Linked DNA regions of Homo sapiens. The protein of the gene in region 1 purifies or fractionates together with the protein of each later gene. This does not show direct contact. Each region holds a gene or a part of one and is shown in the gene's direction. Other genes may lie near its edges.

Region 1 (10,698 bases):
GCCCCCTGCCCTGGGCACTTGTCTTTAGGGATGAAACTTGCTCTGGTTGGAACTGCCCATTGAGCTTCAGATCCTGGTTGCACCTTGGCCCCTGGTCCCTGGCCCCTTGAGTCTAGGCGTGCCTGCACCGGCCCAGGGAGCTTCTCTCCTGAGCTTTCTGCAATCTCCCATCTCCAGCCTCAGACTTGAGACAGGGCTGGACAAGGAAGCAGATAGGGAAAGAAAGCAGAAGTGGGGCTCAGACCCTGGGAGAGGGGACTCCACCTTGTCCTACCAGAGCCTGATGCAGTGACAAGTGACATCTGAGAAGAGGCCACCAGGGATCGGGCTGCTCGGCTACTGGCAGCTCTGTTCCTCCTGAATGTCTCAGGTGGGTGGGCCCTGGACATGGAAGTAGGGACATGGAGAGAGGGCAGGAGGACAGAGGAGCATCAAGGAGCTGTCAGCAGCTGCCTCACTAGCTGAGTGCCAGGCTCCAGGGCACAGCGCAGGTGAGTCATGTTCCACTGCATCCTCGACAGAGAAGGCCCTGGGGGAGAGGTGCCTGTGATTGTCATTGCCACAGTTATCCAATCCGAAATGCCATCTTGATGAACCACACATACAATCATAGATGCATGCACGTGCACACACAGGCATGCACACGCACAGTGTTTTCCCAGTCCATGCCCTTCCTGTCTCCATGGAAACCCCCCTCCCCGTTCCCACCTCTGCAGGGAGGGAGCTACTCACCCCTCAGTTCAGATTCCTGGGTGGACAAGGGCTGTCTGCCTGCCACTGTCTCCTCTACAACCCCAGGGTCCGAGAGGCCCTGACCCCAGAACATCCCTGACCCAGGCCCATCTGAGGAGAAGCTGGGACTTTGGCTTGTATTTTCCAGGCTGTTTTGCTGTGGGCGGCCCCAGCACCATGACAGACACCGCAGTGGGGATCCCTGAATGTGCAGTGTCAGTATGAGGAGGAATACAGGACTTTCAACAAATACTGGTGCAGACAACCACTTTTTCTACTATGTGACAAGACTGTAAAGGCTGGAGAGTCAGCAGGAGTGAGTAATGGCTGAGTGTCCATCAGGGACCATCCTGCAAACCTCAGCTTCACAGTGACCCTGGAGAGCCTCACAGAGGAGGATGCAGGTGGATATTTGTGTGGGGTCAATAGACTATTGCTCCAAGAATTTCAAGATCTTGTCTTCCAAGACCTTGTCTTCCAGGTGGAGGTGTCGGTGTTCCCAGGGGAGCCCCCTTCACTCAGCACCAGGCCTGTCTGAGTCTAGGGCTGGTCATTCTGTCCCTGAAGTGAGAAATGGGACAGGAGTGTGTGAGGTTGCAGGCAGTGACTTAGGACACAGTGTCTGTGTGTGCATGCATGGGTTTGCTGTGTGTGTATGCACAGGTGTGTGTGTGCGCACGCATGCACAGGTGTGAGTTGTGTTTGTGGTGTGTGTGTGTGCGTGCGCAGGTGTGGTGTGTGTGTGCTTGCACAATTGTGTGGTGTGTTTGTGTGTGTGCACCCGTGTGTGTGTGTGCTGACATGCACAAAAGCACATTTGCACCTGTTGTTGGAGACTCCTCTGTGTGCCCCACCCTGAAAGTGTCTGGCCTTGTGGGGCCACCAGCCTGGCTGACATTTGGGGTTGAGTGGACTCGGGTCCCATCATTCAGGGAGGGCCCCACTGACTTCCTGTCCTTACTTCCAGTTCACTCCAGCCACTGCCATGCCCAGGGCCCTGGCTCCGCAGTCACTCTAGGTCACGCTTCACAGAGTGAATGTCACCCCTCCCTCCTTGGCTGGGATGGGGTCTGCAGCCAGGTCTTCTTTCCACAGACTCTCACGTTCCCCTAGAGAGCAGGTTGACTCTTGCCTCTGAAAGTGCTCATCTGGCTATGAAGTACTTGGGGATAAGACTAGGGAGGGGCCCAGGGCCCTGGTCCGGCCTGCGTGTGGCCGTGGAACGTGTTGGACTCAGGGCATCTGTCCAGCATGTACTGAGTGATCGTGTCTGTGGAAATCAGAGCTGAACAGGTGATGATGAGTGGGAGACTCAGGCGAGGTCGCCGAGACTGACCTGTGATGCCCCTGCAGCCCTGACAGCGGCCTCCAGTCTCAGAGCTCCACGGGCACCTCGGGTCCTCCCGTTACGTCCCAGCGTGCACCTGGCCCAGCTCTACCAGACAGGACAGCCCTGATCCCAGCCCACACCCAGGGTAAGGTTCGTGCCCCCAGGACTGCCACCTGGGCAGCCTTTCCTGTAGGCTGGGGAGAGATGGGATGGTTGTGTCTCTCTTCTTCTGGTCCCTTCTTTGCTCACGCCTCCCACACCTAATGTGAAGGTCCTACTAAGTGCCAGGTGCTCCTGTCAGGATAGGGTCACAGCAGGGAACCACTCAGCCACAGTCCTGCTCTGGTGGAGTTTGGGTTCTACCAGGTGGATTCACACAGTGAACAGGTCAGCACAGTGGCTGACAGACAAATACAGCGAAGTTTGATGACTGCTGGGAAGAGATATTTGTGCCTTGGGTTTGGGGAGCATGTGTGTGGGTGTTGGAGTCGCTATTTCACTGACAATGATCAGAAGAGGGTTTGTGGATTAGAGGACATGAGCGTGGAGACCTGCAGGATTTGGGAGCAGGGCGCTCTGGGGTCTGGGGGAAGAGGGGTCCAGGCAGAGGGAGGAGTGAGGCAAATGTCCTGCAAGGGAGTCCTGGGACCCGGCCAGGCCAGGGCAGGGGGCAGATGTTTTGGTGCCCGGTGACCCCGGCCCTCTCCCCTGGCCTCCCTTGCAGCCCTGGCCCGAGTCTCATCCTGTTTGATGAGCCCAGTCCTCTGAGGAGCTGAGAGCTGAGCTGGGCCATTCATTCATTCCTTCCATTCCTTCAACAACCATGAATTTTACAGGCTGATATTTGCAACCAGAGGGCAGGTACCAGTTACTTGTGAATAACATGAATAGTCCTCACCTTCTCGGGAAATGATGGCCATACAGGCATCAAACTACATGACTGATTCCATGCGCCAGTGAATAACCCCGGGATGTAGAGATCTTGTGGGTGTGGTTCTCACCTGGATCCCTCCCTGTCCTCATGCACCATTTTCACGGCCACGTGCTTCCTTATAGGCAGTCCTGAGACTCCAGGGACTCTCAGGCTGAAGGTCAGGGTCTAATGATCTCTTTAGAGGAGTTGTCATATACAGAGTTTGTCCTCACAGGGATTTGTGTGGCCACAGGACCTGGGTTCACAGACAGGCAGAAGGTGGAGGGCACCTGGGCTTCCCCTGGGGAGATGACTCACTGCCATCACCGTGTCCCCACAGCTCCCTGTTCAGCAGCCCCTACGTCCTGCTCCTGGTCCTGGAGCTGCCCCTGCTCCTGAGCATGCTGGGTGCCGTCGTCTGGGTGAACGGACCTCAGAGAAGCTCTGGAAGCAGGCAGAGTTGGCCAGAGGGTGAGAACCAGTAGCATCTACTGTCCATCAAGGCCCTGCACTGCGACAGAACCCCTTTGCGGGACTGGAATGACCTCCTGACCACTCCCTCCCGGGCTGCTCTCTCCACATCTCCTGGAATTCTCTGTGAGCCTCCTTCAGCCTTTTCCCTGTGCCTGATCCATGAATCACACGTGAACCTGATGGACACAGACGCCCTGAGCTGTGACTCCATGTCTCATGTGCACGCCCTGGCCAGCTGAACCTCGAGCTGTCACCAACACCTCTAAGTGCCTGATGCCCTCTCTGCACCTTTCCATTTCTCCAGGAGCTTGGCATTGCTTCCTTCAACGTTTTCACAGGGAGGAGCAGGTCCAGGACTCCCCTGCACCTTTGCCACCATAATGGCCCACACTCCCCGGGTCCAGGAGTGCAGAATATGTGGCTGCTTCCATTTGCTGAGTGTGTCAATTCAATGATGCTTTCGAACTTTAAGAAATGACAATACATAGATTCTGGACCTATCATGCCCACTAAGTCAGACCTGGGTGAAAACTCCATTGTTCCCTGATCTCCACAGGCCTTTGCTCAGAATAGTGGACTAAGCCCCAGGCTGGGCCTCTCAGGACTGGGGTCCCTGCAGAAGAGGATCCAGGATTCCCCCCAAAACCTGACAATTCCGTTCCTTATGTAGACACATCCTGGCCAGTGTCTTCTGGTCCCTGCGGGAGGGCTGGTAGAAGATTATCAGTGTGAGTTGTGGCATGGTAGCCAGGCCTTTCCTTCCTCCTTCCTCAAGGGGACCTGACCTCCCCTTCATTCCAGGGCTGTGGCTTTTAACTGACTCAAATATGGAAATTGGTTGAGGGCCGTGACTTCTTAATGTGGTAGTTAACTGAGTCTTTTGCTTACTAGTGCAGACCATGTCTGCTTATCCAGACAAAGGAAGACGTTATCAGCTGACCATCGTTTCGGTTCCAGGGATGCCACACCCAAGACCCCTGTGAGGCAGATGATCCCCATGAGTCCACCAGGTCAAGGAGGGACACGCCTGGGGGTCCTCACCTATTTTTACATTCAGCAGATACTTATGGGAGCTTCTGGTGTATCAGACACTGACCTGGCATTGGAGTCCAGCCGTGAACACCCAGGCAAGGAGCTCTGTTTTCATTGAGCTCATATTCCAGGCGGGGGATAGAAATGATAAACAGATGCAAAAATACGTGCATAAATTCCAGAAGAAATATAAAAGTCAGAGATGAAAAGAGTCACGGAATGAAATAAGAGAAGTGGGGTGACTGCTGTGCAGGAGCTGAGGGGGACTGTGGTGAAGCCCCTCTAATAGGCGCTGAGCAAGCAGGGATCAGGAGAAAGGAGGGGGTGAGCGCCAGGATCCCTGGAGGAGGAGCCCTGAGGCAGAGAGAGGAGCAGGTGCACATGTCCTGCCAGGGGCAGATGCCTCCCTGGGTCAGGTGGCTTCAGGGCCTCCAGACAGCATTTCCTGTCTCCTCCCCAGCCTGGGCAGGAAATGGTGCACCAACTTTGGATGACTAAGTCCTCTGAGGCAGTGGGACATCAGGATGTCATGTATCCATTCACCCATTCATCCTTTCAACAGCCAGTTTGTTAAACTGCACTTGGCAGACTCTGGAATGATAACGGGCACAGCTGTGAATGAGACAAGAGGCTGCACCTGCTCTCAAGGGGCGGCCACCCTAGATGGGAGCAGACATTGACTCGCCAACAGAAAGACTGAGGAAGACGAGAGGGAAGTGTGAAATGGGTCATGAGGACCCCTAAAAAGCGAGCCACCATAACCCGGGAAGGTCAAGGAACACGCAGGCAACCCTGTCGGCTGGAGCCAGGCAGAGGAGTGGGAGGTTGAGGGTCTGGACAAAGGCCCGAGTGGGGAGGGTGGCAGCACCAGTGTGAACCTGGATCCAGGAGGCTGGAGACACCTACCAGGTGCTGGGGCCTGCCAGGACCTGTGTGCAGAGGCCAGGTCAGGTGGGTGCCATCCTGTGACAGCAGGAGCCATTGGGAGTTCAGCAGCGCCTCCCCAGGGCCATGTGTGTGTGTCAGGGATCACATTGCTGATTCTGTGGAGAATGAAAGGGGTGGGTATGAGCAGAAGGGGAGACCAGGTCAGCCCATGAAAGAGCCGGGATACTTCAAAGCCAGGCCCAGGCCAGACCTGAGCACTGGGCTAATTGGAGGCCCTGGGATTGCACTGGGCTAGAGATAGTCCCATGATGTGAGTCTGGGGGCATCAACACCAATGACCCCAGTGCATGCTGTGTCCCTGAGAGTGTAAATGGAGGGAGGACAGGGCAGGTCGAGGGTGCAGAGACCCCTTCATGGTGCCAGGTTTGCCCAGACTCCCATCACTCTCCACTCAACCTCATGGCTGTGTGCACATACTGGTGCTATTGACTCTGATAGGAAGAAAGGAACAGAAATCTGTAGGAGGGTTGGGAGAGTCAAGGAATATGCTTAAGGCATGAGAAGGTGGAGAAGGGGTGATGCCCTCCAGGACAGACAGGAGGTAAATCCTGTGTCTGACTAGCCTCCTTGCCCTTTCCAGGGTAAAGACACCCTGAGCCCATCACGTCAGGAGAACCAGCCATGCCGAGTGTGGATAGACCTGGGTTCCCGCCTCCTGGGAAGGCCTGTCTGCCATGTCTGCTCCCTGCGGAGGCCCCTGGCCATCACAGTGGACCCAGGATAGACACCAGCAGCCGCTGCTCATGACAAACTGTCCTCTCAGTCACCAAACACCCCTCCGTGTGCCCTGGGGTGTGTGCTGGCTCAGTCGCAGCCTCACATCCTCCACAAAGTCCCACTTCAGCATCTTCACATGTCTGAACTCTCTCTCTATTCTCAGTTCTCTGCCCTGATTCCCACTGGGGCATGGATTTTGGCAAGAAGACAAGATGGAAAAGGAGGGTCTCGGGTGGGTGATGCCGCTGTGTGTGTAGGTCTGGGGGCAGGGGCACAAGAGGAAAACTCCCCAAGCCTGTGGGATTTTAACCTGGTTGGGGACTCAGCACCAAAAAGGGACATGCAGATGGTGTCTGGGTTCATAGCGCTAACTTCTGAGGCCAGAAGAAGAGCTGGGGGTCTTAGGGGCAGAGGTCTCTGCGGGGACCTAGCTGAAGATTAAGGGACACAACCTCTCTCTGGTCACCTCCAAGGCTAAAGAAGGTGGCAGATTTAGCCTCCAACCACAAGATTGTCCATCCTGACCAGGAAGTGACATGTCACAGAGGGTGGAGCAGCCCATGTGGTAGGAAATGGCCCAGCTTGGCTCTGCCTTCTGCAGTGTGAGTAACACACTGAAGCCAGAAGCTGTGGGCTGTGGGGAAGTGGCTGCATCGCCACCCAAGGGACCCTGGACTTTGCCAGACGTCAGGGTTGAGAGGAGCCACTAGCACCATCCCAGAGCTGTCAGCACCGGCCTCAGCCCAGGCGGCTCTCTCCCTGAGCTTCCTGTACCCTGACCCTCTCCAGCCTCAGACCTGAGACAGGGCTGGACAAGGAAGCAGAGAGCAGAAGAAAAGCAGAAGCGAAGCTCAGATCTGCTGGGAGGAGATTACATTTTGTCCCCTCCTGGGGTCTTGCACAGTGGCAGGTGACATTCGTGTTACAGGAATGACTGCCAGGGCCTGGGCCTCGTGGCGGTCTTCAGCTCTGCTCCTCCTGCTTGTCCCAGGTGAGTGGGCCGACCCTGGACTTGGGGAGCTCTGTCCTGAGTGGGAGAGGGCAGGGAGGGGTGCAGGCGCTGGAGTAGCGGTCATAGAGGGGAGTGGGGCAGGGAGAGGGGAGGAGGGCAAAGGAGCACCCAGGAGCGGTCAGCAGCTGCCTCACCAGGGGACAGCAGGCGGCAGGGCACAGCACGGGGGAGGCCTATTCCTCTGTGCCCGAGACAGGAAGCCCTGGTGGGAGGTGATGCTGTGACTGTCATTGCCAAAGTTATCCAATCACAAATTTTATCTGGGACGATCACACACACAGTCACACTCACACGCACACACGGTCACACTCACACAGTCTCACACACATGCACACACAGTCACACTCACACAGTCTCACACACACATGCACACAGTCACACATGCACACACAGTCACACTCACATGCACACACAGTCACACATGCACACACAGTCACACACAGTCACACTCACACAGACAGTCACACTCACACAGTCACACACACAGAGTCACACTCACATGCACACACAGGCCCGCACACACCCAGTGTTTCCCTAGCCTTGCCTTTCCAGTCTCCATGGAAACTTCCCATGCCCTTCCCACCTCTGCACAGAGGGAGCCTCCCACCCTCAGTCCCTGTTCCTGGGTGGACAAAGGCTGCCTGCCTGCCATTGCCTTCTCCACACGCCCAGGGTCCATGAGGGGCTGACACTGCGGCACCCCTGACCAGGCCCCTCTGGTAAGGAGACAGGATTTTGGCTTGTATTTTTCAGGCTATTTTCCTCTGAGCCACCCCATGACCGTGGCGGGCCCCGTGGGGGGATCCCTGAGTGTGCAGTGTCGCTATGAGAAGGAACACAGGACCCTCAACAAATTCTGGTGCAGACCACCACAGATTCTCCGATGTGACAAGATTGTGGAGACCAAAGGGTCAGCAGGGAAAAGGAATGGCCGAGTGTCCATCAGGGACAGTCCTGCAAACCTCAGCTTCACAGTGACCCTGGAGAATCTCACAGAGGAGGACGCAGGCACCTACTGGTGTGGGGTGGATACACCGTGGCTCCGAGACTTTCATGATCCCATTGTCGAGGTTGAGGTGTCCGTGTTCCCGGGTGAGCCCCTCCTTTTCTCAGCACCAGGCCTGCCTGAGCCTAGGGCTGGTCATTCTGTCCCTGAAGAAAGAAGTGGAACAGGAGGGTGTGAGCCTGGGGGTTGGTGAGTCAGGACACTGTGTGCCGCTGTGTGTGGATGAGTGTGAGTGCGTCTTTGTGTATGCGTGCCTGCATAGGAGTTGTGGTGTGGTTTGTGTGTGTGTGCACCTGCATGTGTGTGTTGGGAGGGTGGGCGCCCACAAAAGCACCCTGGCCCTGTGGCTGGAGACCCCCCGCTGTGGGCCCTCCCTCACGGCCTCAGGCCTGAAACTTTCCTGGGTGGGGTCTGTGAGGCCACCCCTGACTCTGGGGTCCTTGCTACCTCCCTGTATTGACAAGGGCCGGATCCATACTGAAGGGTGCCCACTGTCCCGCCTGGGTCTAACTCGCTCTTCCCCACGGGGAATTGGACCCCCCCATCATTGGCTCCTCTCACTCAAGGCTGCCCCTGCCCTGGGGCCTGCATGGATGCCGCCCTGTCTGGAGGGTCCTGAGGCCGCAGCCTCACAGCCCTGTCCTGGGAGCTCCTGCAGCAGCCACTGGAGGACACAGGAAGGAGCCCCAGAGCCCTGGGTGGGGTTCTCATGCTCCTGGGAACCACATCCTGCCCCTGAGGCTGACCTGTGTGTCCCCCTTATTCTCTGGCACCTTTTACCACAGGAGGGAACCCCAGAAATTGCCCCCTCAGGCAAAGGGACCTGTGGATGGAAATGAGCTGAGACTGGCACGGACCTGAGGGCCCTTTCCCGTGCCGAAGATCATTCTTCCCTCAAAGGCCCCCTCCTGTCTCACAAGACACAAACCCAGTGGCCTCAGTGTGGTTGCTTTTCCATCGTTTTCTTCTGACAATGTCCCAGGTTCCTCGGAGCATCTTCTTGTTCTCCATTTCCCCGGGGGCGACGTGTCCCTCCTGCGCCCTTTGTGCCTTCCTATCTAGGAGTGAGGAGCTAAGATCCCACCTGAGGGCGCCAGGGAGAGGAGGAAAGGGCCCTTATCCAGCTGTATTCACCACGGGCCGCCGCCCAGGCTTCACCGGGCATCCCCTCTCTAGATCTTTCTTCCTGGGCATTCCCTCCTGCTGAGAGGATGGTCCAATGGCCTTGTGGGGCCGCAGCATGGCTGCCATTTGGGGCTGAGTGGACTCGGGTCCCATCGTTCAGGGAGGACCCCACTGACTTCCTGTCCTCACTTCCAGCCTCTCTCCAGCCACTGCTGTGCCCAGGGCCCTGGCTTCGCAGTCACTCTGGGTCACCCTTCGCAGAGTAAACATCACCCCATTCCCCCAGGTCACCCTGTCCCTCCCTGGCTGGGGTGAAACCTGGAGACCCGTACCTTTGCCACAGGTGAGCAGGGCAGCTCTCACATCTGAAATGGTGTCCTGGCTCTGCAGTACCTAGGGATGGGACAAGGAGAGGCCCAGGACCCTGGTCAGGCCTGGGTGTGGCCGTGGGGCATGATGGATGCAGGGCATCTGTCCAGCACATCATTGGTGACCTTGTCTGTGAAAATTGGAGCAGAACAGGTGAGAGTAAGTGGGAGACCCATGTGATGTCATCAAGGTTGACCTGTGTTTCACCCACAGCCGGGACGACCACAGCCTCCAGCCCCCAGAGCTCCATGGGCACCTCAGGTCCTCCCACGAAGCTGCCCGTGCACACCTGGCCCAGCGTGACCAGAAAGGACAGCCCCGAACCCAGCCCACACCCTGGGTAAGGTGCCTGCGCATAGGACTGGGCCACGCTGGCGGCCTCCCCACTGCGTGTGATGTTTAGGGGACTCGGATGTCCCTTCTTCCAGTCCCTTCTTTGTTCGCACCTCCCACACCAAACGTGAAGGTTCTATTAAGTGTCAGGCGCTCCTTTTGGGATTGGGTCACAGCAGGGAACCACACAGCCACTGTCCTGCCCTGGTGGAAGTTGAGTTCTACTGCGTGGATTCACGCATTGAGCAAGTCAGCACAGAGGCTGATGTACAAATACAGCAAAGGGTAATGAATGCTGGGATGAGATGTTTGACTCTTGGGTTTGGGGAGAGCGTGTGCAGGTGTTGGAGTTGCTATTTCACTGACGATGATCAGAAGAGGGTTTGAGAATTAGAGGACATGAGCACAGAGACCTCAAGGGTTGGGGGCTGGGCACTCTGGGGTCTGGAGGAAGAAGGGTCCAGGTGGAGGGAGGAGTGAGGCAAATGTCCTGCGAGGAGCCTTGGGACCTGGCCAGGCCAGGGAAGGGGGCAGATGCTCTGGGGTCCGGTGGCCCTGGTCCTCTCCCCTGCCTCTCTCGCAGCCCTGGCCAGAGTTTCATCCTGTTTGATAAGCCCAGTCCTCTGAGGAGCTGAGAGCTGAGCTGTCCATTCATTAATTCCTTCAACAACCACTGAAGTTGTAGGGCAGATTATTGGAGACTCCGG
Region 2 (10,426 bases), on another chromosome or scaffold:
CTCAGGAATGTTAATAATCAGGAAACTGGAAATAAAGAAGCCAGGGCTCAGGAATGTTAATAATCAGGAAACTGGAAATAAAGAAGCCGGGGCTCAGGAATGTTAATAATCAGGAAACTGGAAATGAAGTCGGGGCTCAGGAATGTTAATAATCAGGAAACTGGAAATAAAGAGGTCAGGGGCTCAGGAATGTTAATAATCAGGAAACTGGAAATAAAGAAGTCACCACGGCTCAGGAATGTTAATAATCAGGAAACTGGAAATAAAGAGGTCAGCGGCTCAGGAATGTTAATAATCAGGAAACTGGAAATAAAGAAGTTACCACGGCTCAGGAATGTTAATAATCAGGAAACTGGAAATAAAGAGGTCGGGCTCAGGAATGTTAATAATCAGGAAACTGGAAATAAAGAAGCCAGGGCTCAGGAATGTTAATAATCAGGAAACTGGAAATAAAGAAGCCTGGGCTCAGGAATGTTAATAATCAGGAAACTGGAAATAATGAAGCCAGGGCTCAGGAATGTTAATAATCAGGAAACTGGAAATAAAGAAGCCAGGGCTCAGGAATGTTAATAATCAGGAAACTGGAAATGAAGTCGGGGCTCAGGAATGTTAATAATCAGGAAACTGGAAATAAAGAAGCCAGGGCTCAGGAATGTTAATAATCAGGAAACTGGAAATAAAGAGGCCAGGGCTCAGAAATGTTAATAATCAGGAAACTGGAAATGAAGTCGGGGCTCAGGAATGTTAATAATCAGGAAACTGGAAATAAAGAGGCCAGGGCTCAGGAATGTTAATAATCAGGAAGCTGGAAATGAAGTCGGGGCTCAGGAATGTTAATAATCAGGAAACTGGAAATAAAGAAGCCAGGGCTCAGGAATGTTAATAATCAGGAAACTGGAAATGAAGTCGGGGCTCAGGAATGTTAATAATCAGGAAACTGGAAATAAAGAAGCCAGGGCTCAGGAATGTTAATAATCAGGAAACTGGAAATGAAGTCGGGTCTCAGGAATGTTAATAATCAGGAAACTGGAAATAATGAAGTCGGGGCTCAGGAATGTTAATAATCAGGAAACAGGAAATAAAGAAGCCAGGGCTCAGGAATGTTAATAATCAGGAAACAGGAAATAAAGAAGCTGGGGCTCAGGAATGTTAATAATCAGGAAACTGGAAATAAAGAAGTCACGGCTCAGGAATGTTAATAATCAGGAAACTGGAAATAATGAAGTTGGGGCTCAGGAATGTTAATAATCAGGAAACAGGAAATAAAGAAGCCAGGGCTCAGGAATGTTAATAATCAGGAAACAGGAAATAAAGAAGCCAGGGCTCAGGAATGTTAATAATCAGGAAACTGGAAATAAGTCACGGCTCAGGAATGTTAATAATCAGGAAACTGGAAATAAAGAAGTCGGGGCTCAGGAATGTTAATAATCAGGAAACTGGAAATCAAGAAGCCAGGGCTCAGGAATGTTAATAATCAGGAAACTGGAAATGAAGTCGGGGCTCAGGAATGTTAATAATCAGAAAACTGGAAATAAAGTCGGGGCTCAGGAATGTTAATAATCAGGAAACTGGAAATCAAGAAGCTAGGGCTCAGGAATGTTAATAATCAGGAAACTGGAAATGAAGTCGGGGCTCAGGAATGTTAATAATCAGGAAACTGGAAATCAAGAAGCTAGGGCTCAGGAATGTTAATAATCAGGAAACTGGAAATAAAGTCGGGGCTCAGGAATGTTAATAATCAGGAAACAGGAAATAAAGAAGCCAGGGCTCAGGAATGTTAATAATCAGAAAACTGGAAATAAAGTCGGGGCTCAGGAATGTTAATAATCAGGAAACTGGAAATCAAGAAGCTAGGGCTCAGGAATGTTAATAATCAGGAAACTGGAAATAAAGTCGGGGCTCAGGAATGTTAATAATCAGGAAACTGGAAATCAAGAAGCTAGGGCTCAGGAATGTTAATAATCAGAAAACTGGAAATAAAGTCGGGGCTCAGGAATGTTAATAATCAGGAAACTGGAAATCAAGAAGCTAGGGCTCAGGAATGTTAATAATCAGGAAACTGGAAATAAAGTCGGGGCTCAGGAATGTTAATAATCAGGAAACAGGAAATAAAGAAGCCAGGGCTCAGGAATGTTAATAATCAGGAAACTGGAAATAAAGAAGCCTGGGCTCAGGAATGTTAATAATCAGGAAACTGGAAATAAAGAAGCCAGGGCTCAGGAATTATAATAATCAGGAAACTGGAAATAAAGAAGCCAGGGCTCAGGAATGTTAATAATCAGGAAACTGGAAATGAAGTCGGGGCTCAGGAATGTTAATAGTCAGGAAACTGGAAATAAAGAAGTCGGGGCTCAGGAATGTTAATAATCAGGAAACTGGAAATAAAGAAGCCAGGGCTCAGGAATGTTAATAATCAGAAACTGGAAATAAAGAAGCCAGGGCTCAGGAATGTTAATAATCAGGAAACCGGAAATAAAGAAGCCAGGGCTCAGGAATGTTAATAATCAGGAAACTGGAAATGAAGTCGGGGCTCAGGAATGTTAATAATCAGGGAACTGGAAATAAGTCGGGGCTCAGGAATGTTAATAATCAGGAAACTGGAAATAAGTCACGGCTCAGGAATGTTAATAATCAGGAAACTGGAAATAAAGAAGTCGGGTCTCAGGAATGTTAATAATCAGGAAACTGGAAATAAGTCACGGCTCAGGAATGTTAATAATCAGGAAACTGGAAATAAAGAAGTCGGGGCTCAGGAATGTTAATAATCAGGAAACTGGAAATCAAGAAGCCGGGGCTTAGGAATGTTAATAATCAGGAAATTGGAAATAAAGAAGTCGGGGTTCAGGAATGTTAATAATCAGGAAACTGGAAATGAAGTCGGGGCTCAGGAATGTTAATAATCAGGAAACTGGAAATGAAGTCGGGGCTCAGGAATGTTAATAATCAGGAAACTGGAAATGAAGTCGGGGTTCAGGAATGTTAATAATCAGGAAACTGGAAATAAAGAAGTCGGGGCTCAGGAATGTTAATAATCAGGAAACTGGAAATGAAGTCGGGGCTCAGGAATGTTAATAATCAGGAAACTGGAAATAAAGAAGTCGGGGCTCAGGAATGTTAATAATCAGGAAACTGGAAATAGGTCAGGGGCTCAGGAAGGTTAATAAGGAAACTGGAAATAAGTCATGGCTCAAGACTTAATAATCAGAAAATTGGAAATAAAGAAGTCGGGGCTCAGGAATGTAACTGGAAATAAGCCAGGGCTCAGGAATGTTAATAATCAGGAAACTGGAAATAAAAGAAGTCGGGTCTCAGGAATGTTAATAATCAGGAAGCTGGAAACGGAGAAGTTGCGGCTCAAGTTGGAGACTTTCTCTGCCTTCTCTCCTGTCTCCAGAAATTTGTCGCGGTATATGTTAATTGCTCCTTCACCTGCCTTAAGTCTTTTAATAGAATAGAAGCATCCTTTTAGAGTAATTGAAGTTTTCATCAAACCCATAGTGTCGTTTATTCTTTGCATAATAACAGACTAAAGTGATGTTAAAATATCTCTTGCTTTTACAGTGCAATTTTACACATAAAATTACATGTAATTGGCTGGGCACTGTGGCTCATGCCTGTAATTCCAGCACTTTGGAAGGCTGCGGCGGGCAGATCATGAGGTCAGGAGATGGACACCATCCTGGCCTACATGATGAAGCCCCATGTCTACTAAAAATACAAAAATTAGCTAGGCGTGGTGGTTGCGTGTCTGTAATCCCAGCTACTCAGGAGGCTGAGGCAGGAGAATCGCTTGAACCAGGGAGTCAGAGGTTGCAGTGAGCCAAGATTGCGCCACTGCACTCCAGCCTGGCAACAGAACAAGATTCTGTCTCAAAACAGAACAGAACAAACTAACAAACCATGTAATTTTAAAGGTAAAAATTTTAGGTCTTAAAATGTGAGTTGGAGCATTCTAAGGAAGTGGTATTTGGTTGAGGAAACTAAGACCAGGCAAATGATTCTGATCCTTTTCTCATAGTTTATTTAAAGCTGTTAATTTTATTCTAATAACTGCCTCTATTTTTCTAAACATACTAGGATGCCCACATGAAGCAAATAGAAGTTGTAGGCGATAAGATACCGTGTGATGTGATGTTTGTGTGCATGTTGCATATTGTACATCAAGTAAGATGTTCTCTTAGAGTGAAGGTAAAGTGCTTGATAATGTAGAATCAACTTTTAAGCAAAATTTAATAAAATTATAGTGTGGTTTTGGTATTTTCAGATAATTTTTGAAAATATCATTAAAAGTTTGTACATATGAAAATTACTTTTTTTTTTTTGTAGAGGAGTGAATGTCGTTCCTTTTCTAGAACTCATTGGGTTACCTGACAGTGTGGTAAGCATCCTGAAAAACTCCCAGAGTGGAAATGCCCTCACAGCATATGCCTTGTTTAAGGTGGGTACTGTAACAAACCCATTGCTCCTCAGAACTCACTGGTGGTGACCTGCTCACTTTCCCATGAGATTCCATGTTAGCTTCCAATTGTATTTCGTAACTTGAAACGCTGTATTTCATCTCTGATATGTCTGGTGAATAATGTAAGATAATTTTTTTTTTTTTTTTTTTGGAGATGGAGTTTCGCTCTTGTTTGCCAGGCTGGAGTGCAGTGATGCCATCTCGGCTCACTGCAACCTCCGCCTCCCAGGTTAAAGTGATTCTCCTACCTCAGCCTCCCGAGTAGCTGGGAGATAACAAGATAACAAAATAAAGTGGAAGTAAAAATGTGGTTTTAGGAAGAAATGCCTTAAAAATTGGTAGATCATTCATAACTTCCTGTGGTCAAATAATTGTTAGACTTATGTGATTTTCCATGGTAGTAGTCATCTGTTTGACATTGCTCCCGTTGATAAATGGAGATATAATTATTTTAAGTATAATTATATTTGTTTTTTCTTATTCAGTGATCTGCATGCCACCTGATTTGTTAGCAAAATTTAGCATTTATTTTACTGTTTTTTGTTTTGTTTTGTGTGTGGTTTTAAGGAGCAGAGAGTTTAATAGGCAAGAAGGGGCAAGAAGGAAGGGAGAAGGAAGAAGCTCCCCTGTACAGAGACAGAAGGGGGGGGCCTCCAAAGCCAAAAGAGGAGATCCCCCTATTTTACTGTTTTTAATAATTCATCTTTTCTTAGCAAGTAAAATAGGTTTAATCCAAATTGTCTTATATGATAAACCCTTTTCTGTTAGATTTTAACCTAACATATGTTTCATTTTAAAAGTTGATAATCTTTGTAACTATTCTCCGGATTCAGACAACTTTTTTGAGACGGAGTTTCACTCTTGTTTCCCAGGCTGGAGTACAATGGCGCGATCTCGGCTCACCGCAACCTCTGCCTCCCGGGTTCAAGCAATTCTCCTGCTTTAGCCTCCCAAGTAGCTGGGATTACAGGCATGTGCCACCATGCCTGGCTAATTTTGTATTTTTTTAGTAGAGACGGGGTTTCTCCATGTTGGTCAGGCTGGTCTCAAACTTCTGACCTCAGGTGATCTGCCCGCCCTCGGCCTCTCAAAGTGCTGGGATTACAGATGAGACCCACTGCAGCCGGCCTGACAGCATCATCTTGATAGCTTCTATGCCTATGGGTCTTTATTTTGGAAGGGAAGACTCACTGTAAATTGTGGAGTTTAGCCATATTAATCTCATTTTCTAAACTGACAAATATTTATGAGGGTCTGTGAAACTTCTACCTAAGGAAGTTGAAAACACAGAAACTAGATGTTTTATTTTACTTCTGTTGTATAAGAATATCTAAGAATTACAGTTTTACAGCATTACTCAAAAGTAGCATTGTTTCATTCTGTCATCCTCATTAGCATCCTCTGAAATCTTGGTAGATTTCCTCTTTTATTATAATTTTGATGAGAGGGCTAACATTTAATTTTTGAGTTTTTCTACATTAAAGTGTATTAAATTTAAAAATTATCAAGTTTCTAATTATGGTGGGTATAATTTTAACCCGAGTAAGTCAAACTATCATGCTGATGTAAACCTTCCCTAATTTAATTGCTCCTTATCCCACTCCCATAGCATGACAGTTGATAGCACAGTGTGTGCTAGGTGTTAAGTGTTTGTTTTATTTGATTAGGAGCTCCCAGGAACTCAGAATCATGTCTTCTTTCTTGTTTTTTTTCACTGCACCTGGTATTATGTTCTGTAGGTGAATAAAATGCTCAGCACGTGTTTGTGGAGTTGGGATTGAAAATGAGGCTGTAGGCGTCATGGTAGGGAGATGAGTGCCAGTGGTGTTTCTTCCCCCTCACTATTCCTCTGTGAAGTAGGAGATATGGAGGGGATTCTCCTTTGTATTATCTGTAACCCCCAGTTTCTCAAATAGAGCAACAGACACAGATTTATTGCTTCAACAAGACAAAGTCCCCAAATGAAGTATGGCATGTATGGTCTGGTGGCAGTTGGCTACGGGATATATTCACTGACTGCCTCATAATCTCTTTGAAATACACCCAGAGTTTTAGTCATCCTCTGCTGTGTGCTAGGTACCATTCTAGGTACTGGGAATAAACGAATCAAAGAAGACAGTGCAAAATACCTGCCTCATAGGGCTGATAGTGTAGTGAGTGGTAGTGGGTTGGGGAGACAAGGTAAAGTTAGAAATGCATGCACACACAAAGTGTGTGTACGTAGATGATGGTAACTGCTAAGAAAGGAAACCAGGGATGGGGGTATGGATTTGTTTTTCAATGGGAGATGGCACACCTTGCTGAGAAGGTGAGAGAGTTGCTCCTCCAAGAGGGAGGAGCATTCCAAACAGAGAAAATCCGAAAGACAAAGTTCTGAGGCTGCAGGATCCTGGGAGTATTTGAGGGATGCAGGGAAGCTAGTGTGACCGGAATCAGTGAACAGGGCAGAGAATGGCGTGTCATCAGATCAGGACAGCCTTGTTGGCCCTTAAAAGGACTTTGCTTTTTACCCTGAGGACATGGAAAGCCACTGGACAATTTTAAGCATCCTGCCTCTGTTCCATCAAAATCACTTTGGCTGCTCTAGTAACAGACCATGGCGGGATCAGGGGAGAAGCCAAGGGACCTGGTGTGAGGTGAGGTGATTACAGTATTTTAGTTGAGAGGCAATAGTGGCCAGAACCCAGGTGGTAGCAGGAAGTAGTTGGATTCTCGATACGTTTTAAAGACGTGGTTGCTGGGGTTTTCTGATGGTTTGGATATAAATTATGGAAAAGAAAGAGGGGTTGAAGCTTTCTTGTAAGTTTTTGGCCCGGACAACTGGAAGAATAGAATTGCCATTTTCTGAGATGAGTAAGACTTTGAGAGAAGCAGGTTTGAAGTAGGACAGTCGAAGATCCGAAGGTCAGTTTTGAACATGCAGTCATGTGCCACCCAACAGCATTTCGGTTAACCATGGACTACAGACAGTGATGGTCCCATAGGTCCCATGTTTTTATGAATGTCATATTTTTACTGTAACTTTTCTACATTTAGATAGTTTAGGTATACAAATACTTACTGTGGTCTTATAATTGCCTACTGTGTTCGGCACAGTAGTGTGCTGTACAGGTTTGTAGCCTAGGAGCAATAGGCTATACCTTGTGGCCTGAGTGTGCAGAGGGCTACACCATCTAGGTTTGTGTAAGTACACTCTGTGAAGTTTCACACAACAATAAAATCACCTAATGACACATTTCTCAGACCGTATCCCCATTAAGTGACTCACCTGCATTAAGTTTGAGATCTTATTAGATATGCAAATGGAGGTGGTTGTATATACTGGAATTCAGGGGAAAAGTTCAGTCTGGAGATTAAAGTTAAGAATCATCCATGTATAGTTGGCACTAAAGACCAGAGAGTGAGATAGGTAGAGAAAATAAGAGGTCCAGGGATCGAATGTTGTCACACCACGTTCAGAGGTGGGTGAAAGGGGAGGAATTGGCAAAAATGAGAAGCCGCCATGAACTAGAAGGAAGCCCAGCAAGTTGAGGGCCTGGAGCCAAGTGAAGGGAAGGTGAAAGCTGTGTGGGATGGTTCCAGTGGTTCAGGGGCTGGTTCCAAATTGACAACTGGATTTAGTTTTGTAGAGGTCACTGTGACTTTGAAAGCAGTTTTGGTGAAGAGGTATGGGTGAAAGCTTGCTTAACGTGAGTTTAGGAGAGAAATTAGAGATAGAGCAGACAGCTCTTTCAAAGTTTTGTTATACAACACACCTATGCATTTTGTTTTGTTTCGTTTGAGACAGGATCTTGCTGTTTCCCAGGCTGGAGTGCAGTCGTGCAATCACAGCTCCCTGCAGCCTCGAACTCCTAGACTCGAGCAGTCCTCCTGCATCAGCCTCCCAAGTAGCTGGGACTACAGGCACATGCCACTTACTCCCGGCTAAGTATTTTTCTTTTCTTTTTCTTCTTTCTTTTTCTTTGTGTTTTAAGAGATGGCAGGGTCTCATTATGTTGCCCAGACTAGTCTTGAACTTCTGAGCTCAAGCAGCCCTCCCGACTGAGCCTCCCAAAGTGCTGGGATTATAGGCGTGAGCCATTGTACCTGCCAACACCTATGTTTTTTGTTTTGTTTTGTTTTGAGAGGTAGCTTCACTCTTGTCGCCCAGGCTGGAGCGCAATGGTACAATCTCGGTTCGCTGCAACCTCTGCCACCGGGTTCAAGCGATTCTCCTGCCTCAGCTTCTCAAATATCTGGGATTACAGGTGCCTGCCACCACGCCCGGCTAATTTTTGTACTTTTATTAGAGACTGGGTTTCACCATGTTGGCCAGGCTGGTCTTGAACTCCTGAACTCAGGTGACCCACCCACCTAAGCCTCCCAAAGTGCTGGGATTACAGGCATGAGCCACTGCACCCAACCTGATTTTTGACTTAGAATATGATGCAGCCTTTTTACTTGTATGGTTCTCTTTGACCAGTCATCCATCTGCTATTTAGTATTGGTCCTAAAAGTTCCAATTAACGTTAAACCTGTGCATGTCTGCAGCAGGTGTGCCATTTTACTACTTTTGGCCTTGTGTAAATTAGTGGCTAGGATTTGAGACTCAGGGTAGATTGTGATGAGAAGGTAGCATAGGTTTAGAAAAGTCAAAGGAAAGGGATTTGGAAGTGAAGCTAACCTAAATCCCAACAGAGAGTGGTTTCATGCTCTGCCTCTCACCATTTGAAGACATTCAGTTCTAGTTTAGCTCCAGATAGAAAGCATTTGGCAGGATGGCAGGGCTTTTAAGGAATAGAAACATGTGTTCCTCTGTTATTTTTACTGGTACTGAGTCCTCTTTCTGATTTCCAGGTTGACCTGTCCCCCAAGTTTACTAGCATGCGATTAGGGACATCAGTGCTATGATTCTGTTATCTGGGTCAGGATTGTGTAGAGGACAAACATTCATAAAATGAGTTTACAGAAGAAATATCTCTTGTTAGGAGGGAAAACCATATAGGATATTACTACATTAGCTTTGTGAAACAATGAGGCAATTTATTCTGATGGGTTATTACCAAGAATTTTAATTTTAACTTGTTTTTGCTTAAGATGACAGTAATAACCAGGTTTTGATTTGCCTCTGTTTGCTTTTTGCTTAAGATTGCAACACCTGCTCGGTATACCGTGACTTTGGGAGGAACATCTGTCACTGTGAAGTATCTGCGCAGTCATGGCTACATGTCCACGCCGCCACCCGTCAAGGAGTATCTGCAGGACAGGATGGAAGAGACAAAGGAGCTTATCACAGAGAAAATGGAAGAAACAAAAGATAGACTCACTGAAAAGTTACAAGAAACCAAAGAAAAAGTTTCCTTTAAGAAAAAAGTGGAATAAGGTGCCTTATATAGCAGTATAGAAAATTCCTGCACTTTAACCCTTTGGAAACTATGGGCAAAGATACATGTGTCTGATTATTTTTTTGGTTAGTTGCCGAAATATACTAGTTCTCTGAGGGTTAAAGAAGTAAAATACCTTTTTAAAGTTAAATATCACTAGAAAAATCAGTGTTATTACAAGGGAAGAAATGAACCCAGTTTAAGAATTTGCCATCAGTAGCAGTATTAAGCAGTGGTTAATGTCTTAGAAGTCAGACTTCTTTTTCAAGGTCTTCAGAACCACACTTGATTTCTGTTTTGTTGCAGCTGTAATTGACACATACTAGGCAGCTGACTCCTTGAATATCCAGTGTGACCCATAAAATAGTCTGTTAATACCGGATCTTAATTTTTATGTTATTCATTAAGATTTTAACTATATTCAGTACGTAATTTGGAGACAAACTAGCATCATCAAAACTGCCTGTAAATAAGGTGTTTAGTCTTTCTATAAAAACAGAATAGAGCAGTTACCTACCAGTTAAAATATCTTATATGAAGAAAATAGAATAAAGATCCAGTCATATATGTAAATAAGATGTACTGATTGTACGTAAATGAAAAA
Region 3 (10,426 bases), on another chromosome or scaffold:
CTAACCTCTTCCTTTAACACGGAGAGCAGCTGTGCCTGCCGAGACATGAGTACCAAATCCACAAAACTGAATTGGCCAACGTGATGCCAAGAGACAGAAGCCAGAGGCAACAAGCTACATGTCATAGGATTGGATTGACATGAAATGTGCAGAACAGGCACATCCTTGGAAGCAGGAACCAGATCGGTGATGCCAGGGCATGGGACAGGAGCAGGGAGTGACGGCAGAGGGGCCGGAGGGATCTCCAGGCAGGATGGAGATGCTCTGAGGCTGCGGTGGAGGGTGGTGTCATGGCTCTGTAAACTTAAAAAAAAAAATCAATAAGTTGCGCACTTAACATGGGCGAATTCCATGGCCTGTAAATTATACCAGGGCGTAACTGCCAGCATTGCATCCTCCCGTGGAGAGCTCTAGCCCCAGGGCCCGGCTGCTTCCCACTGCTGGTTTCTCTGACTGACGCCCTCCTTCTCACCCAGGTGTACTTGGGCTGTGTGCTTGGTCTGGTGGTCATTTTAACGGGGATCTTTGCTTATTACCAAGAGGCAAAAAGCACCAACATCATGTCCAGCTTCAATAAGATGATCCCTCAGGTGAGTGGCAGCCACCTATCCTCTGGCCTCTGGTGACTCCCAGGTGAGGAAGCCTCAGCTGGGAGGGGCACAGGGCCCTGAGGGCTACGGGTTTCCACTTCCTTCCCTGTCGGAGCAATCGTGGGCGAATTAACCCATCTGTCAGAACCCCAGTTCCTCACAGGATTTTGATGGTCAAATGAGGCACCACCCAGGGCAGTGCTGGTTAGCCCAAGGCATCTTCTGTTCCTGCTCCTCAGTGTTTGTGGATAGTCCTTCTGGGTTCTGGAAGGGACCTGTGGAAGGTCAGGGAGTGTTCTTTCACTGGCAGCCAAGGAGACCAGCCTGCAATTGTTTATCTGTGACCATTTTTGCTCCTGAGCCCCAGAATGCATTTGGTGGGGAAGCCCAGTGCTCCCTTCTTCCCCAAAAACCCCTGTCAGGTGTCCACACTGTCTCTGGCCCAGAGAACTGTGGGCTGGAGAGATTCTGGGTGGAAAAGACGCCTCCTGCCAAGCTTGAAGCAGGAGATCACCTCGTTAAAATTTCCCTGACACTCGCAAGATTATCAGCCTCCCCAGCCCCACCTTCAGTGTTCTGCCCAGACGCCCAGCCAGGATTGCTCACCCTTAGTGGTCTCCTTTTCTAGGAGGCCCAGGGCTCTGGCTTGGCCAGATCTGGCCAACAGCGACTCTTCTGTTCCAAGAACTCTCCATAAGCTCAAGAAAAAGTAGTTCTTAGAGTCTTCAGGCCTCGGGTGAAGCAGTCTTCTGTTTCATTCTTGCTGTTCTGACAGCCTCATGCTCCAGCAGCAATGCTGTGTCCACAGGGCCAGGTGCAGGCTGCATAACAGCATGGACTCAACAGTGAGAGTGATCAGGAAGTTCCAAGGCCTCTGTCCTGGGGTTCGGTGCGGCACAGACTTGGGGGAGGGCCGGTGTCCTTCCAGGGTCTGAGGCATCTGTCATGGTTTTTTTCTGCAGCAAGCTCTCGTCATCCGAGATTCCGAGAAGAAGACCATCCCTTCAGAGCAGCTGGTGGTGGGGGACATTGTGGAGGTCAAAGGAGGAGACCAGATCCCTGCAGACATCAGGGTGCTGTCTTCTCAGGGGTGTCGGGTAAGCGGCAAGGGGTATCCACCCCAAGGACCATGTTCCAAACCTGCTGGCTCTGGGGTCTTTCCCAGCATCAGTATAAGAGGCAGGGAATGAGGTACCCAGCTGTGAACCACCTTCAACATTTCTTCTAGGTGGATAACTCATCTCTCACGGGGGAGTCTGAGCCCCAGCCCCGCTCCTCTGAGTTTACCCATGAAAACCCCCTGGAAACAAAGAACATCTGCTTCTATTCCACAACGTGTCTGGAAGGTAAAAGGCCTCTGGCTCTCAGCCCACATGTCCACCTGTGTCCTTTCTCCCTCCTGGGCTCTCAGGTCTGTCCTTTGCCACACCCCGTTACAAAGCTCATCCCAGAGGAAGCATGGAACTGAAGGGCCTAGAGGACGATGCTTGGCCTTGGGAATGTGGTGTGCCTATCGATTGTGCCAGCCCCCAGAGAGGGCTGCAAGCTGGCTGCACACCCCTCCTGGCTGAGGACCCCTGGAATAAAGCATCTACTTCCCCTGTAGGCACTGTCACCGGCATGGTTATCAACACGGGTGACCGCACCATCATTGGCCATATTGCCTCATTGGCCTCAGGAGTTGGAAATGAGAAGACGCCCATTGCCATTGAGATCGAGCACTTTGTTCACATTGTGGCAGGAGTGGCTGTCTCCATCGGCATCCTTTTCTTCATCATCGCTGTGTCCCTGAAGTATCAAGTCCTGGACTCCATCATCTTCCTCATTGGCATCATTGTGGCCAATGTGCCCGAGGGCCTCCTGGCCACTGTCACTGTGAGTCCATGCTGTTAGACAGCCTGCACCTGGCCCTGTGGACACAGCACTGGTGCTGGGGAGGCGCCCACACAAACTGCAATCTCCCCCAAGTCCAGAGCACCACGCCCTCCCCGCCAGCGACAACCCTGGAACATTCTGCATAGACTGTTCCTTACAGAGACAAAAAATTTGTCATATTTTCAATATTTGACTGCGTTTTCCTTGAAAACGTTATGCTTTCAATCTGCAATTCACACAGCTTACTCTGCCCCATAAGATCTAGATAAGACAGACTCCACCATTCACAGGTTTTCTAGAAGCTTGATGCCTTCCGCACATTTCTTTGGCAGTTTCTACAACTTAGGCATTTAGGCACATTGCCACACTCCACTTACCTCTCTTACGAAAAAAAAAAATTCCTCCCATTTTTCCTGCCGAGGACTCCAGCCCTTTCCTGGCCAACCCCAGACCCAGCTGTTTGTATGGGCCCATGTCATTCAGTCCCTAGAGAAGAGCCCCCTCCTCCTCAGTCTCTCCTGTGGGGGTCTCAAGGGGTAGGAGAGGAGGGGGTTTATGTTTCCAGTTTTGTGACTACATGATCATTGGCCTGCTATTGTCCTGACCAAAGAAAAGAGAAGAAGTTTTTGAAGTCCAGGTCTCCTCTGACTCCAGGAGATAGTAATTTGGGGAAATTGGAGCCAAAAGAACCCTTTGAGATCTAGGGGTTTAAAAGAATCTTTAAAATATGGAGCTTTTAAAATGAAACAACATAAAGGCTGCTGAATTCCCCAAAGCAACAAGTGTGTCCTTTGGGACAACTCTTTGGCATGCACTGGTCAGTCTCTCTTACACACTCCTGCTTAGGGATCACAGGAGGCGTCGTGATTGTACGTGAACACGAGCCACAGCAGCGTGTCCGTGTTTGCTGCCCGTGGGTCCCTTGTTTTCTTCAAGTCATGAAGGAACAAGAAAAGCATCTCATATTTAATCTTTAAAAAAGGATTGTGGCATAGAGGGCTCTTGGCGGCGTATAAGCCACCAGGTCAGCTTAGCTGCGCTGACAACCACACCTCTCCCCTAAAACTAGTCCAGCTCTCTCCTAAAATTCAATCACAGCTCACATTGGCTATTTCTGTATTATTGGACCTGAGTTCAAATGAGGATTTTTCCCAAAGCGTCCTTCCCTCTCCTGCTAGGTGACCCTGTCGCTGACAGCAAAACGGATGGCCAAGAAGAACTGCCTGGTGAAGAACCTGGAGGCTGTGGAGACCCTCGGCTCCACCTCCATCATCTGCTCGGACAAGACTGGGACACTGACCCAGAACAGGATGACAGTGGCCCATCTGTGGTTCGACAATCAGATCTTTGTGGCTGACACCAGTGAGGACCATTCAAGTAAGTCTTATGGAGAGCTCGGTCTGGCCAAAGCTGTGGACTCCATCCTGGGGCTGAGCTGAGCACACAGCAGGGTCTGCAGCCAGAGGATTGCTGGACAGTGACTCATGGACGGCCAGCCCAACCCACAGCAGCCACTGTTCTTTCTCTGTCTTCCAGACCAAGTCTTTGACCAAAGCTCTAGGACTTGGGCCTCCTTATCCAAGATAATAACATTGTGTAACCGAGCAGAGTTCAAGCCAGGACAGGAAAATGTCCCCATCATGAAGGTAATGCTTCTGCAGCACTTGGTCTTAAATCACAGCCAGTTTGTAGTCACTTGCTGAGGTCTGATTGGGTGCTTGATTTCATCTCTCCAGTTGCTTAAAGTTTGTTCAGTGCTTGCAAGAGCAAGTCAGACTCACAAGACATCCAGAAATTTTTCTTTATGCACACTAGCTTTGAGAATACAAAGATGCTTAAAAGGTTTCAGAATATTGCTTTAGCGTCTTCAGAAAATTCTGGAAATGAATGCACTTCTAAGTTACTTTCCTGACTTTTCTGCCAGCTAAGTGGATATAATCAAAGTTCCTTTTAATATACACACCATTCATGGAAATTTAAAGTGTGATTGAATAAAAATAAAAGGACTCCTGTTAACTAGAATATGGCTGCAGACAAAGCTCTAAGGGGTCCTGGAATATCGGAACATACAATAAACTCTCCCCCTCCCTCCCTCTCCTCCTTCCCTTCCTCCCTTTTCCTCTCCATCTCAATGAGTCACTGAATCCCTGTTCTCCTGGCTTTTCTATTTGCCATCTGTTTCCTTCCCTGACTCTTTTTCTTTCTTATTTTTTTGTTTGTTTGTTTGCTTTTCTCTCCGTCAGACAGCTCATGAATGCTCTTTTTGGCCAATTGCTTCTTTGTCGATATCTTCCAAATCTTTATGTCCAGCTCTAATTTCTTACCTCAACTCCAACCCGAATCTCTGGCTGGCTGTGTGCTTCCGCTAGGAAGTTGCACAAATCATGCTTGTTAACTTCCACCCGTACCCAGCCTGGCTGCACATCAGTGCCTTGCCGCAATTTTCTAATTGTCTATGATATAACCATTCTATTTGTCATTGGAACAGAATATTTGGAAGTCATCTTTGACTTTATCCTTTCCTTATATCCAGTAAGCCACCAAGTTCTATCATTCTTGCTTCAAAATATACATAACTTTAGTATTTGTCAGCAGTACCTTGCATCTAAATAGCCGATTACCGGCTGATTGGAATTAAACCTCTTTGATTCCGGTTTATCCCTCCTGGGGTCTTTCTCGAATGCCACTAATTTCCCTTAATGGTGCTTTTATAGTCACTTAACTTTGCTCAAAATCTCTCCGTACTTCCCTGTTTTCTGCTTCTCAAGTCTAGACCTCAGGCTACCTTTCAGGGCCCTCCAGGTCTTGCCACACCCTCCACATCCGCTTGTACCTTGAACACTCACGGACGAGCCTGCCCCTCATGCCCCTGCACCCGCATCCTGGTTTCTGGAAGGCTTTCTTCTCTGTGTATCGGTAACCCACCTATCTATCAAGATCTAGTTCGTAGCTGCTTTTTTCCACGAAATCTTCAGTCCTCGCAGAGGTCCAGCTTCTCCAAACATCCCTAATGCCAGTAGGTGGCACTGTTGTTTACACGCTTACCACGGTCTTGCGGCCCTCCCTGATCACGTGATAATGTCTCTCCAGCTAGGTGGTAATGGGATCAGGAGGGTGTGTTTTGGGTCCTATGCTGAGGGCATGTTGGTTCATTAAATATGTGCTGCAAATATTTTTCTTCTTTGATTCCCAGAAAGCTGTGATTGGAGATGCCTCAGAAACTGCTCTTTTAAAATTCTCAGAGGTCATTTTGGGTGATGTGATGGAAATTAGAAAAAGAAACCGCAAAGTAGCTGAAATCCCTTTTAACTCTACTAATAAATTTCAGGTGAGTTTTTCCTCACAACCGGTAATCTCTGTCATCGGCAGCATGACCTTTCTACTTGCATGCATCCTTTGCTTACCTCATATTTTGAAGGATACCTGGCTTCAAAGACAGTCGTCAGGGATACAGCACCCAGGCATCTGGTCCCCTAGGTCAAGCTCCCTTGCTGGCCTCCTTCCTAACCCTGAAGCAGGGCAGAGAAAGAAAGAAAGGCAAGGACTTCATCAGGGCCTGGCTGCTCCTATGAATGAGCCATCTCTGTCACAGGCACACACTCTCTCTCTCTCACACACACACACACACACACACACTCACACCACCACTATCAGGTACCTTCTGCCGTGAGGAGCAGCAGCCATACTCCAAAGCATAAATGCCAGGTGGGCAGCAGGGAGGCCGAACACCTGCTCCTCTCACCTCTAGTGCATCAGGCCCTCGACCTACGTGGCCTTGTTCCATGTTCGCATCCGGCCTGTGAGGTAGGACTGACGAATCCTGACTCAGAGGAGGAAGCAGGCCCTTAGAAAGTGTTGAGAGACCAGAGTCACACAGCACCCAGTGTTCCCAAGCCTGACACCAGGTCCACGATTCTTCCACCATCACACAGAGGGAGTGCGGCACAGTTCAGGCCATGGGAGCAAGCCCTGCCCTTTGGGGAGACCGGTGAGCAGCCCCTGGGGTGACAGCCCCGTCGTTTTCTGGGGCCAGCCCCTGTGCTGTGGGTGGGGGTCTCCTTTCCATCCCCTGCTCAGGTAGAAGACGGCCTTCCTTGCCTGGTTATCTCAGCAAGCAGGGCTGGCCGACAGTCAGCCATCACAGCCTCCCCATGTTAAGACAAATGACAGTTGGGAGCCCCAGGTCCCCATGCAGATGGGATTTTCCACAGAGCCCACACTGGATCTGGACTTGGGCTTTGCACAACAGTAAAGTATAGAAATGGAATAACCACAACTGTACGTGTGGAGATTTCTGGTGATTATCCACCTGTCTTAGTTCGGATGGAATTTAGGGTTAGGGAAGAACTCTTTTTTTTTTTTTTTTTTTTTTTTGAGAAGGAGTTTCACTCTTGTCACCCAGGCTGGAATGCAGTGGCACGATCTCGGCTCACTGCAACCTCCGCCTCCCAGGTATAAGCAATTCTCTTGCCTCAGCCTCCTGAGTAGCTGGGACTACAGGAATGCACCCCCTGCCCAGCTAATTTTTTTGTATTTTTAGTAGAGACAGGGTTTCACCTTGTTGGCTGGGCTGGCCTCGAACTCCTGACCTCCGGTGATCTATCCGCCTTGGCCTCCCAAAGTGCTGGGATTACAGGCGTGAGCCACCAAGCCCAGCCTAGAGAAGAACTCTTGTGTTGCAAATGTCTTCTTTGTGGATAGTGAGCCAACAGAGAATCACAGTTAGCTAAATAGACAACTAACCAGAAACATATGATGTAAAATACTCAAGCCAAGAAACCACATCTCTTACGTAAAACCAAAGTGAAAATAGAGTGCGCAACAGTCCTAAAAGACTGTTTTAGGATGAGTATTATTATACTAATAATACTAGTGATAATAGGAGCTATTCTGTGCTAATTTCCACAAGTATTAAATTATTCATTCGCACGACAACACTGTGGGGTGGCTAGAGGATGAGGAGGTTGAGGTGCCGCGCATCAGTGCACAGTGTGAAGATGGGGTTAGATGATGCCTCCATCAGCAGCAGGACTTGGAGCCCTGCTGAAGCTCCATCTCCCAAGGTAAAGGCATGCCCAGTTGCAAAAGGGAGAAAAAGCAGGTTCCATGAGGCCTCATGTACAAGTTGGAGGAGAAAGTGGCTACACAGAGTGGGACTAGAAAGGGGAGAGGGGGGCCGGGCGCGGTGGCTCACGCCTGTAATCCCAGCACTTTGGGAGGCCGAGGCGGGTGGATCATGAGGTCAGGAGATCGAGACCATCCTGGCTAACAAGGTGAAACCCCGTCTCTACTAAAAAAAAAAATACAAAAAATTAGCCGGGCGCGGTGGCGGGCGCCTGTAGTCCCAGCTACTCGGGAGGCTGAGGCAGGAGAATGGCGTGAACCCGGGAAGCGGAGCTTGCAGTGAGCCGAGATTGCGCCACTGCAGTCCGCAGTCCGGCCTGGGCGACAGAGCGAGACTCCGTCTCAAAAAAAAAAAAAAAAAAAAAAAAAAAAGAAAGGGGAGAGGGGCTGTGTGAGTTCCTGCTGAAGAGGTCGGAGGTGCTGTCTGGATGCTGTTAGGGTCATTTTATATCTACACATGAGCGGTGCTCAGCCTCACCAGGGCTTTAGATGTCATGGCCTTGGAAGGAGACGTCTCTGCGGGAAGGAAATAAAATGGAAAGCCTGTGTCTTATTGATTAGAATGGTGATGCCCCAAACACACTGGTCTGTTAAGACATTTGAAACAGTTTACGGCAAATTGGAAAATGTTTTATAAAGTTTTATATAAAGATGAATGTATTTAATTTAAAAGATTATCCTTTGTAGCCACCATGATTAAGGGCAGGGACTCTGGAGCCTGCTAGCCTGGGCTCAAATCCCAGCTCAGCCACCAGATAGCCACCTATTGCTCAGTGACCCTGAGTGAAGCATTGAACCTCTGTGCCTCAGTTTCCTCCTTTGTAAAAGGGAATAATAATAGTACCCATGGCCTTAAAGTTGTTTTGAGAATAAATAAGTCGATGTGGACAGCACTTAGAACAGTGCCTGGCACGTGGTACATACCATAAAAGTGTTTCATATTATCCCTATGTTTTAAATGTAAAAAGCCTTATCTTGGCCAGGTACAGTGGCTCACACCTGTAATCACAGCACTTTGGGAGATCGAAGAAGGCAGATTGCTTGAGCCCAGGAGTTCAAGACCAGCCTGGGCAATATACCAAGACCTTATCTCTACAAAAAAAACAAAAAACGAAATTAGCTGGGCATGGTGGCACATACCTGTAGTCCCAGCTACTTGGGAGGCTGAGGTGGGAGGATTGCTTGAGCCTGGGAGGTCGAGGCTGCAGTGAGCTGTGATCGTGCCACTGCACTCCAGCCTGGGGCACAGAGTGGGACCCCGTCTCAAAAAAAAAAAAAAAAAAATTTAAGAGAGAAAGAGAGAAAGAAAAAGAAAAGGCCTATATTTTAGAAAGTGATAGAGCTGGGAGGTTTTCTGTTTGGTTTGGTTTTTGTTGGTTGGTTGGTTTTCTCAATGTCTTTACTTGATCATTAAAAAAAGCAGCAGCAGCAGCTGGTAACCCTATTTGCCCTATACTTCTTTTTGTACTCATCTTTGATACCCAGAAGTCTAAGAAATACTGATTTGTAAAGAACTGTTTTACCCAAAATTGTAGCACTTTTCTTTGCAACTTATTTTCTCCCAAACACTCCAGCTTCCTGAGATTCCTCTTGAGTGCTTAGAAGAGTACCTGGCTTATCAGAAGGGCTAGATAAGAGTTAGTCCTTTTATTCTTGTATATCGATTTTTTTTGCATATCTTATTAGGATGGATCTAGAAGTAGAATTGCTGGGTCAAGAGCATTCCTATTAAAATGGAGACTCCTGTGACTCGGCTGTCTTCCTGAAACATTATACGTGGAAGTGTCCACTTCCTCACACCCCGCCATTTTCTATGACATCCAAGCAGGAAAACTGGGTGGACAATGAGGTGAGGAGGTGCAGAAATTCCTGTCGCCTCCTCCCCTCCTGAGCTCAGAATAGTTTGGGTCTGAAAGACGGCTGCTCCCCACAGGGAGGTAGAGGAGGTGAGATGCAGAGGCTCGCAGCCCCCTAACTCTCACGGGCACCCTGGGAGATCTTGTTCAAGGCACAAGATTTCACACGCTGACGGCCACAACTAGCCTGCCTAAAGCAGCCAGTTTTGCTTGAAAGATGAGCTCCACTTATCCAGAGTGGGTGCCCCACTCTGGGCTGGGGCCAAGTCTAGAGCTCTTCGTCTTACTTGGCCACAGAAAGAAAAAGGGCGGAACATGCTGAGGATGCCATTGTGCCTCTTCCTCCTTTACATTTAATGGACCAGTAGAGAAGAAGGAATGCGTTTCACCTTTCTGTAAGTAACACGCTCAGTTCATTCCTTCCCAGCTCTCCATCCACGAGATGGATGACCCCCACGGCAAGCGCTTCCTCATGGTGATGAAGGGGGCCCCTGAGCGCATCCTAGAGAAATGCAGCACCATCATGATCAACGGCGAGGAGCACCCACTGGACAAGAGCACTGCCAAGACCTTCCACACAGCCTACATGGAGCTGGGCGGGTTGGGCGAGCGTGTGCTGGGTGAGTGCGGCGGCAGGGCCCTGCCCATCACCTGGTGGGCACAGAGATGAGGCAGGCGCCTTGAGGACCTGTGACCTAGCCCAGTGGCCATGGCATCCACGTGAAGCATGTAAAGGAGAACATGATAAGCAGGATGGGAACAAGGAGAGGATGCTGTGTGACAGCACCAAGCAGGGTGGGATGGCCTCCAGAGAGGCAAGCTCAGGGAAGACTTTATGGAAGGAGTTAAATTTCAAACTGGGCCTTAAGTGACTGCATTTGAGGGGAGATAGGGGAAAGTATCCAGGGCCCAGGGAACAGCACAGGCCAATCACAGAGGCAGAACGGCGTGGGGCACATTGGGTGCTGCCAGCAGGTGAGA

Evidence for each region.
Region 2: the proteins of CD300C (region 1) and FAM210A purify together in Homo sapiens (affinity purification with mass spectrometry; 3 studies listed by BioGRID and IntAct, with this or other methods). This does not show direct contact.
Region 3: the proteins of CD300C (region 1) and ATP12A purify together in Homo sapiens (affinity purification with mass spectrometry; 3 studies listed by BioGRID and IntAct, with this or other methods). This does not show direct contact.

What each region holds. Positions count from the first base shown.
Region 1 is NC_000017.11:74,542,161-74,552,858, reverse strand, and holds the start of CD300C (CMRF35-like molecule 6 precursor), read left to right. Parts: upstream 1-6,743; 5' UTR 6,744-7,076; coding exon 7,077-7,137; intron 7,138-7,911; coding exon 7,912-8,250; coding exon of another isoform or gene 8,251-8,353; intron 8,354-9,621; exon of another isoform or gene 9,622-9,682; intron 9,683-9,871; coding exon 9,872-9,998; intron 9,999-10,698.
Region 2 is NC_000018.10:13,665,874-13,676,299, reverse strand, and holds part of FAM210A (protein FAM210A), read left to right. Parts: intron 1-4,326; coding exon 4,327-4,438; intron 4,439-9,586; coding exon 9,587-9,820; 3' UTR 9,821-10,426. UniProt on the Homo sapiens protein: May play a role in the structure and strength of both muscle and bone.
Region 3 is NC_000013.11:24,688,786-24,699,211, forward strand, and holds part of ATP12A (potassium-transporting ATPase alpha chain 2), read left to right. Parts: intron 1-476; coding exon 477-590; intron 591-1,552; coding exon 1,553-1,687; intron 1,688-1,818; coding exon 1,819-1,936; intron 1,937-2,178; coding exon of another isoform or gene 2,179-2,196; coding exon 2,197-2,465; intron 2,466-3,643; coding exon 3,644-3,842; intron 3,843-4,001; coding exon 4,002-4,111; intron 4,112-5,658; coding exon 5,659-5,793; intron 5,794-9,872; coding exon 9,873-10,065; intron 10,066-10,426. UniProt on the Homo sapiens protein: The catalytic subunit of a H(+)/K(+) ATPase and/or Na(+)/K(+) ATPase pump which transports K(+) ions in exchange for Na(+) and/or H(+) ions across the apical membrane of epithelial cells.